3 separate regions of the Homo sapiens genome follow, and all the other regions are linked to region 1. The links come from fine-mapping of genetic effects on gene expression. A gene starts in region 1. Each other region holds a variant in brackets. All regions are shown on one strand. Distances are between the middles of the regions.

Region 1 (6,978 bases):
TGGCTGCTCCTAGGAATCCCTGAAGACCTGTGGAAAAGGCAGATGCTAAACTCACCAAGATCCCTAAACCAGCATTTCCAGGGGTGGGGCCCAAGCACCTGAATTCTTAACTTTTATTTTATTTATTGATTTATTTTTGAGACGGAGTCTCACTTACTCTGTCACCCAGGCTGGAGTGCAGTGGTGCAATCTCGGCCCATTGCAACCTCCACCTCCCAGGTTCAAGCAATTCTCCTGCCTCAGCCTCCTGAGTAGCTGGGACTACACGTGTACACCATCACACTCAGCTAATTTTTGTATTTTTAGTAGAGACAGGGTTTCACCATGTTGGCCAGACTTGTCTTGAACTCCTGGCCTCAAGCGATCCTCCCACCTTGGCCTCCTAAAGTGCTGAGATTACAGGCTTGAGCCACCACGCCTGGCCAAGGCACCTGGATTCTAATGTATCTCCCAGATGATGTTGATGCCTGAGTGAGAACCACCATGGTTCATGTCTTAAGAGCAGAGACGGTGTTTCTCTGCTGTGTGTCCAGCATATAGACTGGTGCCTACGTGGAGAAAGAGCTCTATAAGTGCCTGCCATGTTGGTGGGCGGGAGACTGCCATGGGTTTCAGCGAGAGGCAGGGCCTGGGTGGCTGTTCTGTTGGCCTGTAGCCCTGGAACTCCAGGGGCCCCTTCTATGGAGACCACATAGGGCCAGGGTTCAAGTGTGACAGCTGGAGAGAACCAAGGCATCACGTGCTCTGACCCTTTTTTTTTTAACATGAGTTTAAAAAGATTTACATAATTATATTAATACTGAATCTTTGGTAAACTTGAGAAGCTGGCGATGGTTTTCCACATTCAAAAATTCTATGATTTGCCTTTGGAGCTGCATCTTTTACAAAGGCTCTCCCTTGGTGGCGATTTTGGCTAATGCTCATAGACGTAACTATGCACGGTATTGTCTTCTCTTTTTAAATGAACATTTTGTGGAAGGTAATATACACACATAATTTTTTAAAATCCAAACAGTTCAAAAAGCTGGTTTCTTTCCCAGTTGAGACTGCGCCCAGCCCCTGGTTTTTCTTCCCAGAGGTAATCACTGTTACTCACTCTTGTGGATCCTTCCAGAAAGAACTTATGCACATACAAGTAAAAATGTATTATTATATAAATCCCTTTTTCAAAGCAAATGTCAGCATCATACTCATTCTCTTTTGAATGTTTCTTTTTTCACTTTGTAAACTGAATCTTGAAGATGATTTTTTTATCAGCAGCCAGATTTGCCCCATTCTTTGTCACAGTGTTGTGAGGCCCCATGGCCCCGATGTCCCTTTATGCACTGCACTAGTTCCTGGCCAGTGGGCAACTGTCCATTTATGAAGAGCCCCGGGAGGGCCTAAGGGAGGCCCCCACAGCCCCTTCTTTCCTTTTCTGTGCCCTTGGTCCTAGCTGCTTGTTTCTCTGCCTCAGTCCCCACCCTCATCCCCTTGGACTCTCTTCTAGCCTCTGCTCCCTGGGGGGGTGACAGCCCCGTCCATTGCCATGACATTCCACTGATGTTGTCTCAACACAGCCTGGGGTGACCTCACTGCAGGCGGGGCTGCAAGGGCAAGTCTTGCTGTAGCCAAAGCAACCGAGGGACACCCCAATCCCCAGAGGCTACAAAGCAGAGCAAAGCTGCTTCTGGTGGACTAGTCTGAGTTACATTTATTTCCTGAAGGCTGTGATATGCTACAGAAATGAGAATTCATTTCTTCTTCTTTTTCTTTTCCCTGTGCATCAAGCAACAAGTGAGGTGCCTTTATATATTTTGTATCATAAAATCTTCATGAGAAGTCTTTGAACAAATACCACTGTCCCCATTTTACAGTTGAGAAAACAGGTTGGAAGACTCCAAAGCCCAGCCTGTGCAGCTCTCCCTGGTAAGGGCTGAGCGCTGCCAGACTCCCAGGCCAAAGGTTTGGTTTCTTTAAAATATTGGGGATGAGGGGAGGAGAGAAGAGCAAAGATCAGTTTGGATGATCTGGAAGGTTCTTCCCAACTCTAAGGGTCAGGGATTCTTATGATTCTGACAACCAACTCTGCTATGAGAGAACTCCCCCAAGCCCCAAAGCCCACTTTACTCAAGTTCCCTAGATGACTCAAAAGGAGGAAAATGAAGGAAAGGAGCATGAGGACACACTAAGGAGAGGGGGACCTGCTCCCTGGAAGATGGCACAGGGCTCTGTCCCCCTCCTTACCTTTCTTGGCATTTACAATCTTCTTGGGCTTCTGGGTTGGTGGCTCGGTGGTGACCTGGGTCAGGAGGGAGAAGAGGCAGAGGAGGAGGTAGGCCCCCCAGAGCTCCATGCTGCTGCGCGGGCGGGGGCTGCTGCTGCCTGCAGCGGGTCTGGGTCCGAACGCAGTGACAGCCACGGCCCAGGCTGCACGTCTTAAGGCAGCAGCCAAAGGACCTCTGTCCAGGAAACCCTCCCCAACTTGGCTGCAGGCGTGCCAAAAAAATAAAACAAACACACAAGCCTGCAGAAGGATGAAGTCCTGAGGGCCACAGAGCCTCTCTGCCAGGGAACACCCACGCAGCATCCTGGCCCTGCCTTCTAGAAAGAAGCCCTTATTTCCTAGGATTCTGAGAAACACACGGTGGTTGTCATCACATCTGCGGAGCAGCTACCTTGGGTAGGGGCTGAGGCTGGCTGTTCACTAACATTAACTCACAGAAGCTTCACACCCAAACCACGAGGGAAGCACTGTCCTTTCCCCATTTTACCATTGAGGAAATTGAGGCTCGGTGAGGTTAGGGAATTTGCCCAGGCTACCCAGCTGTCACGGGGTAGCAATGCCCCCTTATAGGGTGATCTGGGGCTGGCTGTCTGATTGGTTTAGAATATTTGTTATGATTATTTTGTGGCTCTGTCTCCATGTACTTGATGCATTTTTTGGTTAAAAAATCCAAGGGATTCCTTCCCTTCTTGTCTTCCCTTTCTCCTGAGTCCTGTCCTAAAGCCACAAAGTGGGGCATAGCAAAGGTGGCGGAGGGAGAAGCCATCGTGCCCCAGAGGTACCAGAGAGGATGTGGGGAGAATGTGCCCTCAAGGGGTGGACTGGTGTGGGGTGTGGGAGCCCAGCAGGGTGGAGGGAGCATCCTGGGGAAAGCAAAGGCCCTGCCTGGAGTGCTGGAGTCCAAGTGAGGCAAGGAGGGGATCCATGTGGGAGAGAGGCTGGTGGCAGAGACGGGAGATTGGTTACACACAGGGATACTGATCAAATAAATCTACTGAAGACAGTGGGAGTTAGGTTTCCTATTGTCAGAGAAGGAAGTTATGTATATGGAGAGAAAACTGGAATGAATCCTGTTGTGTGGGATTAAAATCGGAATGATCAGTGTACCCTTGTGGCCTTGAATACATAAAGATAAGTCCATATATATAGATGGAAATGTGTGTGTGTCTAGTCCCCACAGTCACTGGGGGGCCTGGAGCAGCCAGCCCCGCATAGCCTGGAGCACTCCTAGCACCTGAATACTGGCTTCTGAATATGACTTTCCACTAAAGGAACCAGAGCACCTTGCAGAAACGGCTGATTCTAGCACTGGGAAGTAGGAGTGGGGTGCAGAAAATGAGCCCGGAACTTGTTGTTTTGCCAGAAAACAAGGAAGTGCTTAATGAATAATGGGAACACGTCAGTAGGACACAGAGCCAGCTTGAAGGAGCCTTCAGTGGTCAGAATCAGGGACAATTTGAGCACCAACATAGTGACAGTAACAGATGGGAAACCACCAGTGCACACAGATATAAGTAAGTAAGGGAACGCATTGAAAGTCTGATGTTCTTCAATGGGATGTTTACATAGCCTCAAAGTATCTGCCCACAAAACACTTATCCATTCCAGAGAGAAAAAGAGCAACTTCATGGTGAAGAAGGCTGGCAGACATCACCTCATCTGTGACCAAAGTAAACATCAACAGGGCCAATAAAAAGCTTGCAGCACCTGGGGGGCTGCAGTGAGAATGTGGCATCACTCCATAGGACTCCGGCCAGAGAGACATCAGACAATCCCAAATGGAGGAGCATTCTGCAAAATGACTGCCAGTAATTTTCAAAGCTCCTGGCTGAGGAAGTGTTTCAGGCTGAAGGAGACTGAAGACACAGAACTAAATGCAATATGTGATTCTGGACTGGACCCTCCATTCTCAAGGATGCAGTTGGGACAACCAGAGAAATCTGATGGGGTCTGAGGAGCACACGGCAGTGATGTGTTGTCACATGCTGCATCATGACAGTTCAGTCAACAACAGGCCACATATGTGATATGCTTCCATAAGATTATAATGGGGCAGAAAAATTCCTAACACCTAGTGATGTCACAAAGGGTTGTAAAGTCATAGTGCAACTCATTATTCCCAAGTTTGTGGTGATGCTGGTGTAAACAAATTTACTGCCAGTCATATCGAAGTAGAGCATATAAGGTCATGTTAGCACATAATACTTGATTTTGTTAGTCCGTTTTCACACTACTCTAAAGAACTGCCCAAGACTGGGTAATTTAGAAAGGAAAGAGGTTTAATTGATTTACAGTTCCACACGGCTGGGGAGGCCTCAGGAAATTTACAATTGTGGCAGAAGGTGAAGGGGAAACAAACACCTTCTTCGCAAGGAGGCAGGAGGTACAATGAATGCAGGAGGAACTGCCAAACACTTATAAAACCATAAGATCTCATGAGAACTCACTATCACAAGGACAGCATGGGGGAAACCACCCCCATCGTTCAATGACCTCCACCTGGTCTCTCCCTTGACACATGGGCATTATGAGGATTACAATTCAAGATAAGAATTTGGGTGAGAACATAGTCAAACCATATCATTCTGCCCCACATGATTGTGCTTTGAAATGTGAGAGCATGAGATTTGGGAGGGGCCGGGGTGGAATGATATGGCTTGGCTGTGTCCCCACCCAAAATCTCACCTTGAATTGTAATCCTCATAATCCCCATGTGTCATGGGAAAGACCAGGTGGAGGTCATTGAACCATGGGGGCAAGTTTCTCCCATGCTGTTCTCGTGATAGTGAGTCTCATGAGATCTGATGGTTTTATAAGCATCTGGCATTTCCCCTGCTTGTACTCACTCTGTCCTGCTGCCATGTGAAGAAGGTGTCTGCTTCTCCTTTGCCTTCCACCATGATTATTAGTTTCCTGAGGCCTCCCCAGCCATGCAGAACTGTGAGTCAATTAAACCTCTTTCCTTTCTAAATTACCCATTCTTGGGCAGTTCTTTATAGCAGTGCGAGAATGAACTAATACGATGATAATAAATGACCGTGTCACTGGTTTATGTATTTACTGTGCTATACTTTTTATCATTATTTTAGAGTGTACTCTTTCTACTTTTTTTTTAAAAAAGTTAACTGTGAAACAGCCTAAGGTGGGTCCATCAGGAGGTTTTCCAGAAGAAGGCACTGTTATCATAGGATATGATAGCTCCATGTGTGTGACTGTCCCTGAAGACCTCCCACTGAGACAAGAGGTGGAGGTGGAAGACAGTGACACTGATAATCCTGACCCTGTGTAGGCATGGGCTAATGTGCGTTTGTGTCTTAGTTTTTAACAAAAAGTTTAAAAAGTAAAAAAGTAATAATAACTAGAAAAAGCCTATAGAATAAGGATATAGAGAAAATAATTTTGTACAACTGTTCAATGTGTTTGTGTTTTAAGCTAAATGTTATAAAAGTAAAAAAGTTAAATGAGTTCAAAAGTTTACAAAGTAAAAAAAGTTATGGTAAGCTCAGGTTAATTTATTATTAAAAAAGAAAACCATTTTTTAAAAAAATGTAATGCAGCTTATGTGTGCAGTGTTTTATAGAGTCCAGAGTAGTGTACAGTAATGTCCACGTTCACTCACCACTCACTGACTCACTCAGAGCAACTTCCAGTCCTGCAAGCTCCATTCATGGTAAGTGCCCTATACCAGTGTATCATTTTCTTTATCTTTTATATCAGGAGTCCCCAACCTCCAGGCTATGGACCAGTACTGGTCCACAGTACTGGTCCGTGGCCTGTTAGCAACTAGGCCCATCAGCAGGAGGTGAGTGGTGGGTAGGCGAGCATTACCACCTGAGCTCCGCCTCCTGTCAGGTCAGCAGCAGCATTACATTCTCATGGGAGCACAAGCCCTATTGTGAACTGTGCATGAGAAGGTCTAGGTTGCACACTCCTTATGAGAATCTAACGCCCAATGATCTGAGGTGGAACAGTTTCATCCTGAAACCATCACCCCAACCCCGCATCCGTGGGAAAATTGTCTTCCATGAAACCAGTCCCTGGTGCCAAAAAGGTTGGGGACTGCTGTTTTATACCATATTTTTACTCCACTTTTTCTATGTTGAGATACACAAATACTTACCATTATGTTACAACTGCCTACAGTATTCAGTGCAGTCACGTGCTGTACAGGTTTGTAGCCTAGGAGCAACATACCATACCTGAGAGCCTAGGTGTGTAGTAGGCTATGCCACCTAGGTTTGTGTAAGTACACTCTGTCATGGTAGCACAACGATGAACTCGCCTGACAATGCATTTCTCAGAACGTATTCCCATTGTTAAGCAACGCATGACGGTATCCCTGTTATGGTCCTACTTGATGGTGTGCTGTGATTATGTAGGAGAGTGTCTTTGTCTGTAGGAAACACACATACTGAAGTATTAGACAGCGATATGGTACTGTGTTGACAACTTACATAGTTCAGGGGGAGAATGTTCTTTGTACTGTCGTTGCAAATTTTCTGAGTTTGAGATTCTTCCAAAAGAAAATACAATACTATGTACTTCAGGCTTTTCCCTGCCTTCTAGGGACCCCACCTTCCCCTGTCTGACTTAGGGAGGGATCTCTTATGTAGTAGGCCAGGGAAGCAGGAGGCCAGCTGGGCTGGCCCAGTGCACAGTAGTCCTGCCAAGGGTGGGGGCCCTGAGCACGGAGCAGAGCATTTGCACGGCCC
Region 2 (6,978 bases), 30 kb after region 1:
AGAGCCAACATGCAGAGCCAGGCTGTTTCTTTTCATGAAGTTCACCATCAGTTCACAGATCTCCTTTATCTGCACATTCATTAAAGAATCTATTTGGCCAATAGCTTAGCTTTTTGTCCTTCATCTGAAGTGGAAGATGTAGTTGCTAATCTCATGGTTCAAAACAGACCCAACAAGAGCCTATATATAAACAAGCAACCAACTGCTACGTGATTATACAAAAGCAAAATTAAGGCCAGGCACGGTGGTTTGCACCTGTAATCCCCGTAAGGCCAGGCACGGTGGTTTGCACCTGTAATCCCCGCACTTTGGGAGGCCGAGGCAGGTGGATCACTTGAGGTCAGGAGTTCCAGACATGCCTGGCCAACATGATGAAACCCCATCTCTACTAATAATACAAAAATGAGCCAGGCATGGTGACATGTGCCTGTAGTCCCAGCTACTCAGGAGGCTGAGACATGAGAATCGATTGAACCTGGGAAGCAGAGGTTGCAGTGAGCCAAGATCACGCCATTGCACTCCAGCCTGGGTGACAGAGCAAGACTCCATCTCAAAAAAAAAAAAAACAAAAAAACAAAAAAAAATTAATTAGAGCTACACAGAGAAGTTACTGTCGAGTGCCAAAACCTGGGTAGAGGAGTATTTGGGAGGCAAAGTACAAGGGAAGAAATGACGGGCTGGACTCAAAAGACTCCCAGGGGAGTAGACTCTGTGTGGGAGGAGGCAGGGCCTCTGGGGCCTCACCCAGGAAACTAAAGGCAGGCACGTTCTGAGGTGTTTAAAAGAAACAATGGCACAGTGAAGTCAAACCAGGTGTTCACATCATACAGACCTGGCTTTGAGACTCAACAGCACTACTCACAAGCTGAGACCTCTTGGGCTAGTTGATTTACCTCTGTCTGTCTTAGTTTCCTCACTTATAAATGGGAAATATAACAGTGTCCATTTGTAACAGGTTTATAAGGTTTAAATGAAAATGCATGTAAAGAGCTAATCATCCTTCCACACAGAATGTACCAACCTGCTTAAATTCTGCCCATGAACTCTGTCTGGCACCATCCAGAGACCATCTCTTGTTTTACTCTTCCTGGACAATTTTTATGGGCAATTTTAGGTGCTATCATGATATGACTATAATTTTATCATAGAATGGCATTATATATATGCTGCTTACATCTATGTTGTATTTAATTTTTAAAAAAATTATTATAGGAGACCATCTTTTCCCAACTAATCCCACCCTATAAGTTGAAAGCATCCACCTGAAGAGGAAAAAAGCACTGGAAGGAAAATAGGCCAACTAGTCTTTCCAACAAAGGTAGAATGTGGCCAGTACAGCACGATGATACTCACCAGCACATCCACATAGAGAACCCAGCAGTGCTCCCGAGGACTAATGCAGAGGGTCTTTAAGTCGACACTGCTTTTATTGTTAAATATCCGATAGAGGGTGTTAGCGATCTCGGTGCCAAGGTCATCACCTCCTCTACCTTCAAATTCAGGGGTAGCACTGGCTGAACTATACAAAACAGAAACAAAAAAACTGGGTGAGTCTTTCCAAGTGCAAAAAGCAAAGAGGCAAAGCTTTATTCCAGTTTCCCTGTAGAATGCTGGAAGAGCCAGCTGCTCGACAGAAAGTCACTGAGATGAGGAAAGGATGGCATCTGCCACTTTTCCTGACTCCAGACACATGTAATGAACCAGACCAGCACTGTGACCTGGATTTGTCAGTGTGTGTGATGGGATTTCCCAATAGCATCTAACAGAAGCCATCTTTAGTCAAAGAGAAACAGGAGAGTGATGGTAATGTGAACCTCGGCCGATAATAATTAACTCTCTTATCTTCAGAGTATAATAAATACTCTTCTCTGGCAGGCCTAGGAAACTGAGAGGCCTAGGGAATGAAGCAGTCTGGGTTACAGAGGGGTTTTGTCATATACACCACCTCTAGTTTCACAGCTTTAGAACACACTACGATACTCTCAATATAAAAACCACAATGTAAGTACAATAACCTTTCTGGAATAACTTAAAAGACATGTATGATAGTATGTCAGAGCTTTGTCAGAAACTTTAGATATCACTGTACTGAAGAGAAGGAAAATGAAAGAAAGCAAGGGAAAGATTGTTGGCTTGTAAGTAGTAGGTTACCTCCTTCATTTGATATTTTTCAAGAGAAAAACTTTTTTTTTCCCTTTTTGGCTTCTTGATATTTATGCCCAATAACCTCAACAAAACTAACAGGATTCAACATTAGCCACCCTAAAAACACTGAAGTGTTTAACAGGACATTTCTGAGAGTTTTTGGCTTAATACAAACAAACCCTTAATATGTATATGAGGTAAGTAACATTCTAGTAATTATTTTACTGTAACAGTAAAGGACTAGAAAGGTAAGAAGCCAGTGGTTTCAGCATGGACTCTATAAAATCACATATTAAAGCCTTCTGACCCCTTGCCCATCTGGAAGGCACCCAGCCCTGCACCAGCTACCAGAGACCTAGAGACTAAGTGAGGTGGATGCAGACCCAAAGCCAGCAGTTCCAGTGAGGTAGGGGAGTTTCACCATAGGGAGCAAACAGTGAGGTAGAAGCGGGAGTAGGGGCACAGGAGTGTCAATTAGCATTCAGGTTTAAAGGCGACCTCAAACCTGGGATGAGCAGAGCTGGTCAGGCCAGAGAGGCAGGAAGATTCCAGGCAAAGCAAAACCTGTGTGAACGCCCATGGCAGTGCCCACCCTATTTGTGTAACACTAAAAGAAATCTCACTTAGTAATATAGGTGGAAGAATGAATCCCAAATTAATCAGACTATGTTGTTACATAAAATTTTGCCTCTCTAATTATGTACTCCTCCTTTACCACTGTGAGCCAGCAGAATCCCCTTTAAAGTCCCCAAGAGAGACTTCATTACTGCCATAGCAACCTCGCTGTTCCCTGCCTTTGCTGGACTCAGGCACTGAGCCAAGAAAAGCAGCTCATTTATGGTGAAATAATCAAGTCAACAGGGACCAGGTTTTTACTTTGCACAGCCAGCAAAACACAACCTGTTTCTAATTTAAACACTAAGCAATCAATATTAAGTCCCAGGTCTTAAGTGCTTAAAAATACATCTACAGAGATTTCTGTGTACACAAATCCAGCCAGAGATGCTTACACTCAAAATGTTTACCTTTCCCTGAATGTAGTGGGCACATCCTCCTGGGTGTGACTAATTTCTTTGGGATTAATGCACTAACTCTTCTACAGCCTTGGGAGATGATTTATAGAGCTTCCCAGGTCCAACTGTCTAAATTAAT[C/T]TACCTATAAAACCATGCATGCCCCTGGCCAGGCGTGGTGGCTCACGCCTGCAATCCCAGCACTTTCGGAGGCCAAGGCGGGTGGATCACCTGAGGTCGGGGGTTCGAGACCAGCCTGACCAACATGTAGAAACCCCGTCTCTACTAATAATACAAAAATTATCTGGGCGTGGTGGCACATGCCTGTAATCCCAGCTACTTAGGAGGCTGAGGCACAAGAATCACTTGAACCTGAGGCAGAGGTTGCAGTGAGCTGAGATCGCACCACTGCACTCCAGCCTGGTCAACAAGAGTGAAACTCCGTCTCAAAATAACAACAACAACAACAAACCCATGCCCCACTGGTTTTTTTTTGACACTGGGTTAAAGTGGAAATTTTTACCTATTTTTAAATGGCTTAAAACACACACACACACACACACACACACACACACACACACACACACACACACCCATTCTTCCACCATAGCCAGCAGTCAGACAGAGAGGAAGGTTTAGAGACTCATGAGCCCAAGGAACTCTCCTGTAACTGGATGGTGCCATAGCTGTGCAGTGACTCTGGGGAGGAGGCTAGGAAAACGGAAAGCAATTGTTCAGGGTGGGGGATGGGGTACAATGCTTTAAGCAACATAAGAAAGCCACAGACCCCATATTCTGCTGATGTGTGAAGACAAAGGCTGGAATAGAGAAATGAGGATTCCACTTCACTACTGGGCACTCACAGCCCAAGGACTCTTTCTGACAAATTTAGACAGAAATGTAGACCTGGAAAAGGCCTTAGAGACCATCTCCAGAGGATAAAAACCCAAATGGCTATAGGGGTCAGCAAGGTTACTACATGTATCTGAACAAAGGGCCACATATAACTAATAGAGAATGATGGAAGCTGTGGCAAACTTTCTAGCCCTGATTTAAGGTCCACCTTAAAAAAAAAAAAAATCCCTACATGAAACAAAAATCTCCCAGGTGGGATCTGACCTGTGGGATGACACTGTGAAACCCCAGATGGTCTAACTCTCTCATTTTACAAGAAGGGAGACCTTATCTTTTTTTTTTTTTTTTTAATGTTTAGCATGAGCTAGACACCACTCTTAGTACTTTAGGTGTATTAACTCATTTAATGTTCACAACAACCCTAGGAGGTATGGATTCCATTCTAGAAACAAGAAAACTGAGTCACAGAGAGGTTATGTAATTTGTCCAAGGCCACATGATGACTGTGCCTGGTAAGCTAAAATTCTAACCCAGGCAGCCTGGCCCTTATCTTCTATGCTTCCCTGTACTCTCCTTGAATCTGTAATTTGGCAAGCTTGGTTTATAGTCTAACATTAGTCAGGTTCACTTTCCTTGGTTTTACCTTTTGCCTCAGGGAAATGAATGTATGCTTTGGTCTTGGAACTTATCACTAGACAACAAATGTTGGAGTCAAGGAATGTTGACCAAGGAAGCCCTAAATAAAAAGCTGCTCTGCTCTGTTAGAGAGAGAAAGAAAACACAGGCTGGTAATTGTAGCTGCCTGCTCATATGCATCACAATCTACTCCTTCAGTGGGGGGTGTACACACTTGGTCTTTTGGGCATAAAACCAAATGCTTTCTGCATTTACCAAAACCAATTCTGACCCTTCATAAAGCATGACCAGTCCCTCTTCCAGAGTTGTGGGAAATTGTTTACTGAGCTGGATAAACTAATTAAGATCCTGGGAATGCTACCCCTCCCAGCTCTCCACCCCTTCTGACTCATCACCTCTACCCTCCTGCTTGGAACATCTCTGGTTTAACTGGGGTAGGCTGAGATCAAGGCCATGCCTACCTGGAAAGGGACTCTAGACACTGGGCCCACTGTTGCTTGCCTGGCAATCAATCTAGCCTACAAATCTATGAAGTCTTACGTCCAGGTCAGGCCAGGCCCACAGCAGAAAAAGTGATCTAGTGGGTACCTAGGCAGGGCTGACCTGGGCCTTACCCCTCCAGTAGTCATCTAGCCCCAACACAGGCCCTAAGGCTGATTCCTCTGAGTGTACATGTGCTCATGTCTGAGCCTGTAGAAGCCTCCCTGTAAATGGGTACCAGACCAATAGTAAGTATATTCTGAGGTTTTCATCACAAGCCTTTGTTTGAAGTGTCTGCGAGAGTTATCTCATCAGCTTGGGAGACTTTGATTACAATTAGCCTCAAAAGGCTTCTGCAGGTTGCCTCTCTGCTTTGTACCCACCCCCAGCCCCTCAGCCAGGAACAGTGTCCCCTTTAGCAGCACTAAGCAGGCAAGGAACCCAGATATAGTGACTCCAACCACCAATGCAGGCTTGAAGATTCTGGTTCAATTTTAGTGAAAAATACAAGTGTTCACATTGAAAAATAGTTAAGATCCCAAAGGGAAGTGACAAGTGCGGAGTATTCTGAAACATTTATGAATGAAAAATGTTCTCCTAAACTCCCCTAGTTAAAAACCCAAGCCTCTCTAAGAGGTTAAACCACAGTCCTAAACCCATCAACACAATGGTCGGAGAACTGAGAAGCAACTTGATGGCTCGCCGCCTAGTGGCAGCGCAGGGTGACACACCAGCTCACTAAAATCTTCCCTTCCTTTGGGCTTTAGATAGAAACCACCTTTTCCTAAAGTTTCCAAATTCTCATTTAAAATAGCCTACTCTCAGCTACAACCAGCAAACCAAAGACATGAAAAGGTCAGATTTTGCTCCCAGTTTAGTGACAGTGCTGCCAGGCATCTCTGGAACAGGGCTCAGGGTCAGTGCAGCAGTCTTTCCAAAGGGCTGTGAGGGCTATATCAAAGATTTTTCGTCATTCCCAAGAAACAGGGTAAATTATGGAGGTGGCGACAGTGTCTATCTTGGCTCCATGTATTATCATCCCAAGTAGACAAAACCAAGTGAAATGGGTTGGCAGAAAATCAATTAGTTTTCTGAGACCTCTCTACCCCTGGCAATTTAATTAAAACTGGAAGTTGCTAACAAGAAGTTAAATCAAACTAGACTCAGAGCAGCAGAAGAAACCCTCACCACCATCACCACCACCATCACCACCAATTTATTTCCTTCCACTGGGCAGCAACTATGTTTCAGCCTGTGGATAGGCAAATGCCTTGAGCTCTCCAGCAGAGGCCCTATGCCTGGAGTCCAGGTGGGAGTGGGTGTGTGGCACCCTTATTGCTGGGCACATCCACGGGTGTCCAGAAGCCATTCCTATTCACTGATTCAGAATAAAAGGACACACTTGTTTATGCAATTAAAATAATTATGCTCCTTGAAGACTCAATTGAGGTTCTGATACAGGTGGCAGCGATCAGTGCTTGGTAACCTCTCCCATCTCTGTAGGAAATGGGGTTTTGTGACTCTCTCATGGTGATTCTACTTGCCCGGCTGATTACATTAGCTGAGCCACTTAAAGAAGGTAAAGTGTGCCACTTTGAGACTGTCCATCTTGAGAAATCAATTCAGGAGAACTACCTAGATACTGGAGCTCTTGGGCCTGTGGGGATCCTTTTGAGACCCACAGAGGAGGAAAAGAGACCAGCAGGCAGCCACTCTAAGCCAGGAAAGATAGGCTACTTCTAGAAGCCAGATCTTGGGAAGAGGCAACTCAAAGAATCCTCTCACACTAGAGTCACTCATCCTTTACAGCTGGGACAAGAAAGGGATAAGAGCAGCAGGCTAACTTGGAGT
Region 3 (6,978 bases), 25 kb before region 1:
AACAGGCAAGGTGAACCCCTTGGGCGGTTACAAAACTAGAAGAGAAATGAATGAGGGGCTGTGGCTATCAGGGCAATAATAAAATGTGATGGGAGTCCTTTGCCAATCTTTATTCAGTTTACCTAACTGTGAGCTTTCGTTTCTAGCTCTGCTCCCAAGGCAACAGACCATATTACAAGTTACTTACGTTAGTAAACAAACTACATTAATCTATAAACTAATTAAAACATATTGTAATGATTTCCCAGTGATATTCTTTAATAATTTTCATTTGGATACTGAAAATGAAAATCATGCATCCCACCCTGCTCTTCAGGAATGCTGAAGGCCAGAGCAGCTCACAGGTTATAGATTTTGCATCTGTAAGAGACAAGCACACCTCAGCATTCACCTTCAGCCCAAACCTCTGCATAGAGAACTACCAGACCTTTAGCAACAGCAACGTAATATCTTCTCACCTGAAAAAGAGAGAAAACCCATATTCAGGGCATCGGGGAATAAAGAGAACCAAACAGGTTCCACTGGGGACGGTGGCATTTTGGGGATTTCTTGATCCATCTCATCATAGCCATGGTTTGGGGTGGAGAGAAACAGGCACCTTTGTGCTGTTTTAGTCCACCTTTAAGTATCCAAAGTGACATTTTCCAGGTCCTCCCTCCCAAGTTCTTTGAGGACCCCAAGAGTCAAGAAGAGGGTTTTGAAGGTAACGGCTGTGCTAGGGATGGGCTTCTGCAGAACAAACACGGGCCACTGTGCTTGACCCCCATCTGGACAGCCACCCTGAGTTGGTAAGGACGTGATGAGGTGAGGAAGGGGGAGAGGAAGCAATAAGCAAGGGTTTGAGTTGGTCAAATCCTTCCAGCAAGTTCCCATGCAAGTGTTCTTGCCACAGAGGCCCATTAAAGGCCTGCTGGTGCTCAGGGGACATTGCCTCCCAGACATCTCCAGGGGCTACTCCAAAAACCCCTAGCCAAAGATCCCAGCTCACCTCAGCCCCCAGTCTCTCCCAGATCTGGTTTCTAGTTTACAAGGTAAAGCTCTCATCCTGGGCTGTTAGGAAGGGCCTCCAAGAGTAGACTCACCTGGGCCCTTCCCTCCCCCTCATCTCCCAGGGGAGGAAGGGGTATGGGGTATGTCTTGAAGCGTATTTTACTTTTGTTTCTGGGTTTGTTTTTTGTTTTTTGTTTTGTTTTTGTTTTTGTTTTGAGATAGAGACTCACTCTGCTGCCAGGCTGGAGTGCAGTGGTGCAATCTCGCCTCACTGCAACCTCCGCCTCCTGGGTTCAAGCGATTCCCCTGCCTCAGCCTCCCAAGTAGCTGGGACTACAGGAGTGCACCACCAAGCCAGGCTAATTTTTTGTATTTTAGTAGAGACGGGGTTTCACCATGTTGGCCAGGATGGTCTCGATCTCCTGACCTCGTAATCTGCCCACATCGGCCTCCCAAAGTGCTAGGATTACAGGCATGAGCCACCGCGCTCAGCCTGAGGCATATTTTTTAATCAGCTGTCACCTGTCTTCACCTTGCCTTCCACTTCCAAGCCATGATTTTAAACTATAGACAACCGGGGGAAAAGATACCTAGGCCAGAGTGGATACAAAATCCTCCAACAGTGAGTGACAAAGACCTTTGAGAAAGAAGAGCCTGGAGAAGGAGGAGGCCACAGAGGGTGATGCCTCAGATGGGAGTGGGGGAGAGAAGGGAGGGAAAGGGGAGAAGGGATGGGAAGGAGTCCCCAGGGACCAGGGGCAGTCATTGGACAGTGGGGATGGGAGTCCCGAGGCACGGTTGGGCCCATGGTTAGTCTCAGAATGGCAGTTCAAGCTCAGCCCTGAGCCCTGCAGGCACCGGCCCAGCCCAACGCACAGCCCAAGGGTGGGGCAGCTGGGCTGTAGGAGGCTGTGAGCTGAGGCCTTGCCTACTCCCCTGGGGCCTTCTGCAGAGTCCTGGGGAGAAGCGAGGCACTCATCAGTGGGGAACCGTGGTTCTAATTAGAGCCCAGAAACCCCTTATAACCAGGTTCAAGACCATCAGCCTGTGAGTGAGGAAAGGTCTAGGACCCTGACTGAGGACAAAGGGGAGTGGCAAATGAGCCCCATTTACCCATGAGACTGTACTAAGGGCTTTGCCAAGTGAGTTGCTGGCTGACATTTTCGCCAATGAGAGCAAAAATAGTTTATGCCATCAGACACCCCTACATCCTAGTTTTGACCAGCTTTTTCTTTTGCAGCGTGCATTTCCCCACCTGGGACCTGACAGTCCTCCCACAGGTAAAGTACACAGCTAAAAATGTGAGCCGTGTGACGGGGTAGCGTGGCTTAAAGGCCTAGAGCTAGGCCCATTCTTCACTAAGTTGGCCCAGAAGTACCAAAAACCTTCCAGGCACCTTTCTGTTTTCTCCTCTTTTGAGTTCACAGTCCCATTAGGTCTAGTCTCTCCTAGAAGCACTGGTTTTCCTAACCGGTACACTCTATTTCCACCCGCTAGTTAGAAGTGGAGATGTTGACTTTGGTCTCCTGCGTCTCTGGAAGGTGACCCTCGTAATTGTTCTATTCTCCTGAAAGGCCTGTGTGTTTCTGATTTGGTGACTGTTCAGGAGACCCAAGGTTGAGTCTTGGGAAGAGCATCATGAAGGCCACCGGGAGGCTGGGACCTGGCCCCTGCTGTGCAGTTCTTACCTGATTTGCTTCCTTCTGATGCACAAAGGAAGGTAAGGGGAGAACTGTCCAGCCATGGCTCCCTCTGAGTCAGCTCTCCAGGCTTGTGGACTTGTGGACCTCATTTTCGGGACAGATATCCCTCTCCTGTCTTTCTTGGCCTCTCCCTCAACACTCATCT[T/C]TCCAATGTTGCTCCTTATCCGTTACCACTATTTCTCTGCTACAGTTCCCGGTGCCTCCCCAAATCTCTTTTCCCCTAGCAAGATGGTCGTAAGCTGAGGTACCCTTCAAGGGCAAAGAACTCCCAGTTGGGATAATGTTGGTCACCAATTTCCTCTGTCTCTGTGTTAGTCCATTTGCAGTGCTATAAAGGAACACCTGAGGCTGGGTAGTTTATAAAGAAAAGAGGCTTATTTGACTCATGGTTCTGCAAGCTGTACACAAAGGATGGTGCCAGCATCTGTATCTGGTGAGGGCATCAGGAAGCTTCCTGTCATGGCAGAAGGTGAAGGGGATGCAGCATGCCACATGGCAAGAGAGGGAGCAAGAGAGAGGAGGAGGTGCCAGGCTCCTTTTAAACAACAAGTTCTTGGGTGAATTCATATAGTGAGAACTCACTCATCACCAAGAGAATTAGGTGATAGTGCTAAGCCATTCATGTGGAGTCCACCGCCATGATCCAATCACCTCCCACCAGGCCCCAACTCCAAAACTGGAGATCACATCTCAACATGAGATTTGGAGGGAACAAACACCGAAACCATATCAGTGTCCTAAATTCCTATTTCCAGCTTTGTTTCCCCTTGATGTTCTTAGCTCTTCTCTCTCCCAAAATGACCAGATTTTCACTCTCTCTCAGTTCATCTCCTCCTCAGTTCTCAGGACCTTCGGTCTTCTCCTCAACTCACTATAAGTCCAACTCACCAGTGTCTCCCACCCGTGCAGCATGTGTTTTCCGTATGCTGGCCACTGTACATGGCTTGTTCTCGGTCTTGATTGGTTTGGAACTTGTTTTACAGCCCTGTGAAGGTTAAGTGTATTTCCACTTTACCAATGAGGAAGAATTCGTATGAATTGTTCAAGGTCACAGGGCAATGAGAGTTGGAGTGGGAACTCTGGTCAGGAGATTCATCCCCATCTGAGCTGTCTGTCATGAAATCCTTTTCCTCCTCATTGTCTTGTACTCTTTAATTTCTTATCCTTTTCTTTCATAGGCAGAATCTAGCACCTTGGGAGCCAGAGTCATAGAACTGGCCAGGACCTGACCAACTAACTACTGCCTGTGCCCTGTAGCCAAAGACCCCCAGGAACAAAATTGGATTTTTTAATTTGTTGCAGTGGGGGAGTCTGTCTGTGATGAGGAACCATGGGGTGTCTCAGTAAGACGGTGTTAGAAGGGACTTCTAATATATATGGGCTCATGTTAACTGATTTGAGAGACGTCTTAAGGAAGCAGGGGTTTGCGCTGGATTGGATGCTATCAGGAGGCAGGAGCAATACTATGAGAGGGCATCTTAATTTTTATGCAGAAGGTGGAATGCGTGCAGCAGGGCTAAAGCTGTGATTGGTTAAAAAAACAGCAAGCAGTCAGTTGTGTTAGCTGGAGTGGGGGATATTTAGTGATTCTTGTGATTTTCACAGTGACCTTGTTTTTGTCCCTACTCAGACGTGATTACAGAATGGTCTTGTTTTTGCCAGCCCCTGTCTGATGCTGGCAATCTGTGAGATAGGCTGTGGTTCAGCAGAAAAACATTACAGCCCAGCCATGAGCACCTGGCCAGTAAGAGCCAGCTGTCAGGGACTACTTTTCTCTTTCTGGCTACAAAGGCAAAGCCTCAGTCCTTAAGTTTCAGCCTGCTCTATATCCCAGACTCATATCTTCATGTTGAATAATGGTCATCACATTTGAAGAGGAAGAAGAAGAGGAGGGATAGACAAGAACAAGGAAGCAGGTTTGTTTGGGGGTGAGGGTAAAATGACATCTTAGCTTAGAGGATTCGTGTCTCTGTGAACTGAATGGATCCGGGGTTCCATTCCTCTATCTGGATAGAATGGAATCCAAAGCCACGTCAGGAAAAAGGATTATGATACCATTGGTGTGCAGGTGTCTTCTACATTATTAGAGAAAGTTCCAGGTGGAGGGGTGGGGAAGGCAATTATGGAGTGCCTGTTCCTTAATACAGATAATTCTCTTAGGAATGCAATCCTTTCCTAAGAGAACACATCTAAGGGAAGCAAAGCTAAGGTAATTGTACATGCCGATTTTCTGGTACATCTCTGATTTTAATAGTATAATTATTCCATTACCTTGTTATAGCTTGTATAATTTTATTATACATATTATATTTTGCATAATTTTGTTTTAGTGAAGGGAATTCATTACTTGTCTGTTCTCTGAGAAGCAGACAGGATGGGATTAGAAGTGTAAGAGATGTTTTGGGGGCAACACCTGTGAAGGATCCAGGGTTCAAGGGAGCAGGAATAGGCAGGGAGAGCCCTCCACAACACAGGTCCCACACCTGTGTAAAAGAGAGAGCAGGAAAGGCTAGGTGGAAGAACCTCAGACTGCAGTACAGTTCTGAGAACATCTTGGCCAGATTGCTGGGGAGTTCCCAAGCTAAAATTCTCCATGAGAGGAGTCACCCTCGTTGGGTAGGAATGGATCAGCACAAACGCTCCTACGTACTCAGTCACTGCCCAGAGGCAGCCGGGGTAAGTCTGGTCTAGTGTCCTTAGGGGTGGCAGCCAAGGCTGTCAGTCCACTCTGCTCCTTGCAGCAGGTTCTGTTAAAGGGATCTGAGTGGTGCCCTCCATGGCCATATTGGCTTCAGCTGCCACTACCACTTTTTTTGAGTCTTTGAATCCATTTAAGTTCTCCTAGAAGCGGAGGCCAAGAAGGAATTAAACATACAAGAGATTGATTAAGGGAAATACCTGTGAAGGATAAAGGCGGAAGAGAGCAGAAAAAAACCCCTATACAAATGTGCCTTAAACTGTATACTGCTGGTGAGTAAATACATTCGTACAAGAGTCTTTGTTTTTGTTTTTTAAAAAAAGCTTTTGTTGTGCATTCTGAATTTTGCTTTGGGAAATATGGTTTCTTTATGTCATGTTAAGTAACAGAATTGCAATTAGAAGCATCAAAAATAAATAAATTCTACTTCAACTACTACATTTTCATGGCACCTTTCTGTGAGGAAATTTGCAGCTACCCTCTACCTCAGTGGTTCTCAGCTTCTCAACTGGGGGTAATTTTTCCCCCCAGGGGACATTTGGACTGGTCTGCAGACATTTTTGGCTATCACAGCTGAAGCAGGGTATTGCTGGCGTCTAGCGGGCAGGGGTCAGGGATGCTGGAAAACATCCTACAATGCCCAGGACAGCCCCCACAACAAAGAATTATCCAGCCCCAAATGCCAATAGTGGCGAGGTTTTGAAACACTGCCCGGCTGATCCTCTTAGTCCTCTTGCAAGGAAACCAGCAGCACAGGTGACTTAAATGGGCACTGAGGGGCATTCTAGATAGGCTTAGTGGGGAGACTTCTGAGACTGGGAGCTCTCATATGGAAAGGATTATCCCTGAACCAGCCCCAGAGCAACAGGGCAACATACAGCCATCTCCTAATGGTAGACCATTCATGGAAATCAAGCATTCTGCAGAATAGCACCCTCTGTCCTATTTAAATGGTAAACTCTGGCTTAATGAATGCCCCAAGTCCCCAGTAGATTTCCAAATATGTAACTAAAACACTCACACACGCACGCACACACACACACACACACACAAATCCCTTATGTAAGTTACAGAAACTATCATGTCAGAAAGTAAAATGCCGTAAAACTCGATTCCAAGCACTACACTTCCTATACAGCAACATCTGAAAGAGGTGTACCCACACCTGCCCTGCCATTCTAACCATTGTCTTTGGGATGTAATCTGAAACTTTCCCAGCCTATCTTGATTAAAATCCACTGAGTCTTGTGGACTGTCAATAGAAATTTTTCTTAAAAACACTGGATGAAAAACATTGAGAGATACATTTTGTGGGGTTTGAGTATTAAAAATCCAGAAGCAACACAGCTTGCCAGGACAAAAGAAAAAAAAGCCAGAGGTATATTTGACATGGAAAATGTTCACTGGAAACATGTGAAGCATATGCTTGTATTTTAGAGCCCCAAAACACTTTTGGGGGGCCAGGAAGAAAGATTTTGTTGACATTTTTTTCCTCCTCATTGACCTCTAACTCTGTGTGTTGTCCTAGTCAAGCTGGTAAGCAGCTCCAAGGGGATGCTGGATCACTGGAGATGTTAGGAGCCCTAC

The links. PIP is the estimated chance that this variant, and not a neighbour inherited with it, causes the effect.
Region 2: its variant is the best candidate, but not a certain one, in a credible set for the expression of CLEC3B in esophagus muscle (GTEx, PIP 0.70).
Region 3: its variant is the best candidate, but not a certain one, in a credible set for the expression of CLEC3B in aorta (GTEx, PIP 0.57).

Annotation. Positions count from the first base shown.
Region 1 is chr3:45,021,720-45,028,697 of GRCh38, reverse strand. CLEC3B (C-type lectin domain family 3 member B) reads right to left here and starts at 2,395. Exons shown (of 3, transcript NM_003278.3): 1 at 2,227-2,395. The coding sequence starts at 2,335. RefSeq lists enhancers at 1,014-1,513, 1,514-2,015.
Region 2 is chr3:44,991,628-44,998,605 of GRCh38, reverse strand. EXOSC7 (exosome component 7) reads right to left here. Exons shown (of 8, transcript NM_015004.4): 4 at 1,354-1,519. Among named protein-coding and RNA genes, the nearest start is that of EXOSC7, 19 kb to the right of the region's middle. The variant C/T (reference allele first, on the strand shown) is at 3,298.
Region 3 is chr3:45,046,784-45,053,761 of GRCh38, reverse strand. No RefSeq gene overlaps it. Among named protein-coding and RNA genes, the nearest start is that of CLEC3B, 24 kb to the right of the region's middle. The variant T/C (reference allele first, on the strand shown) is at 2,839.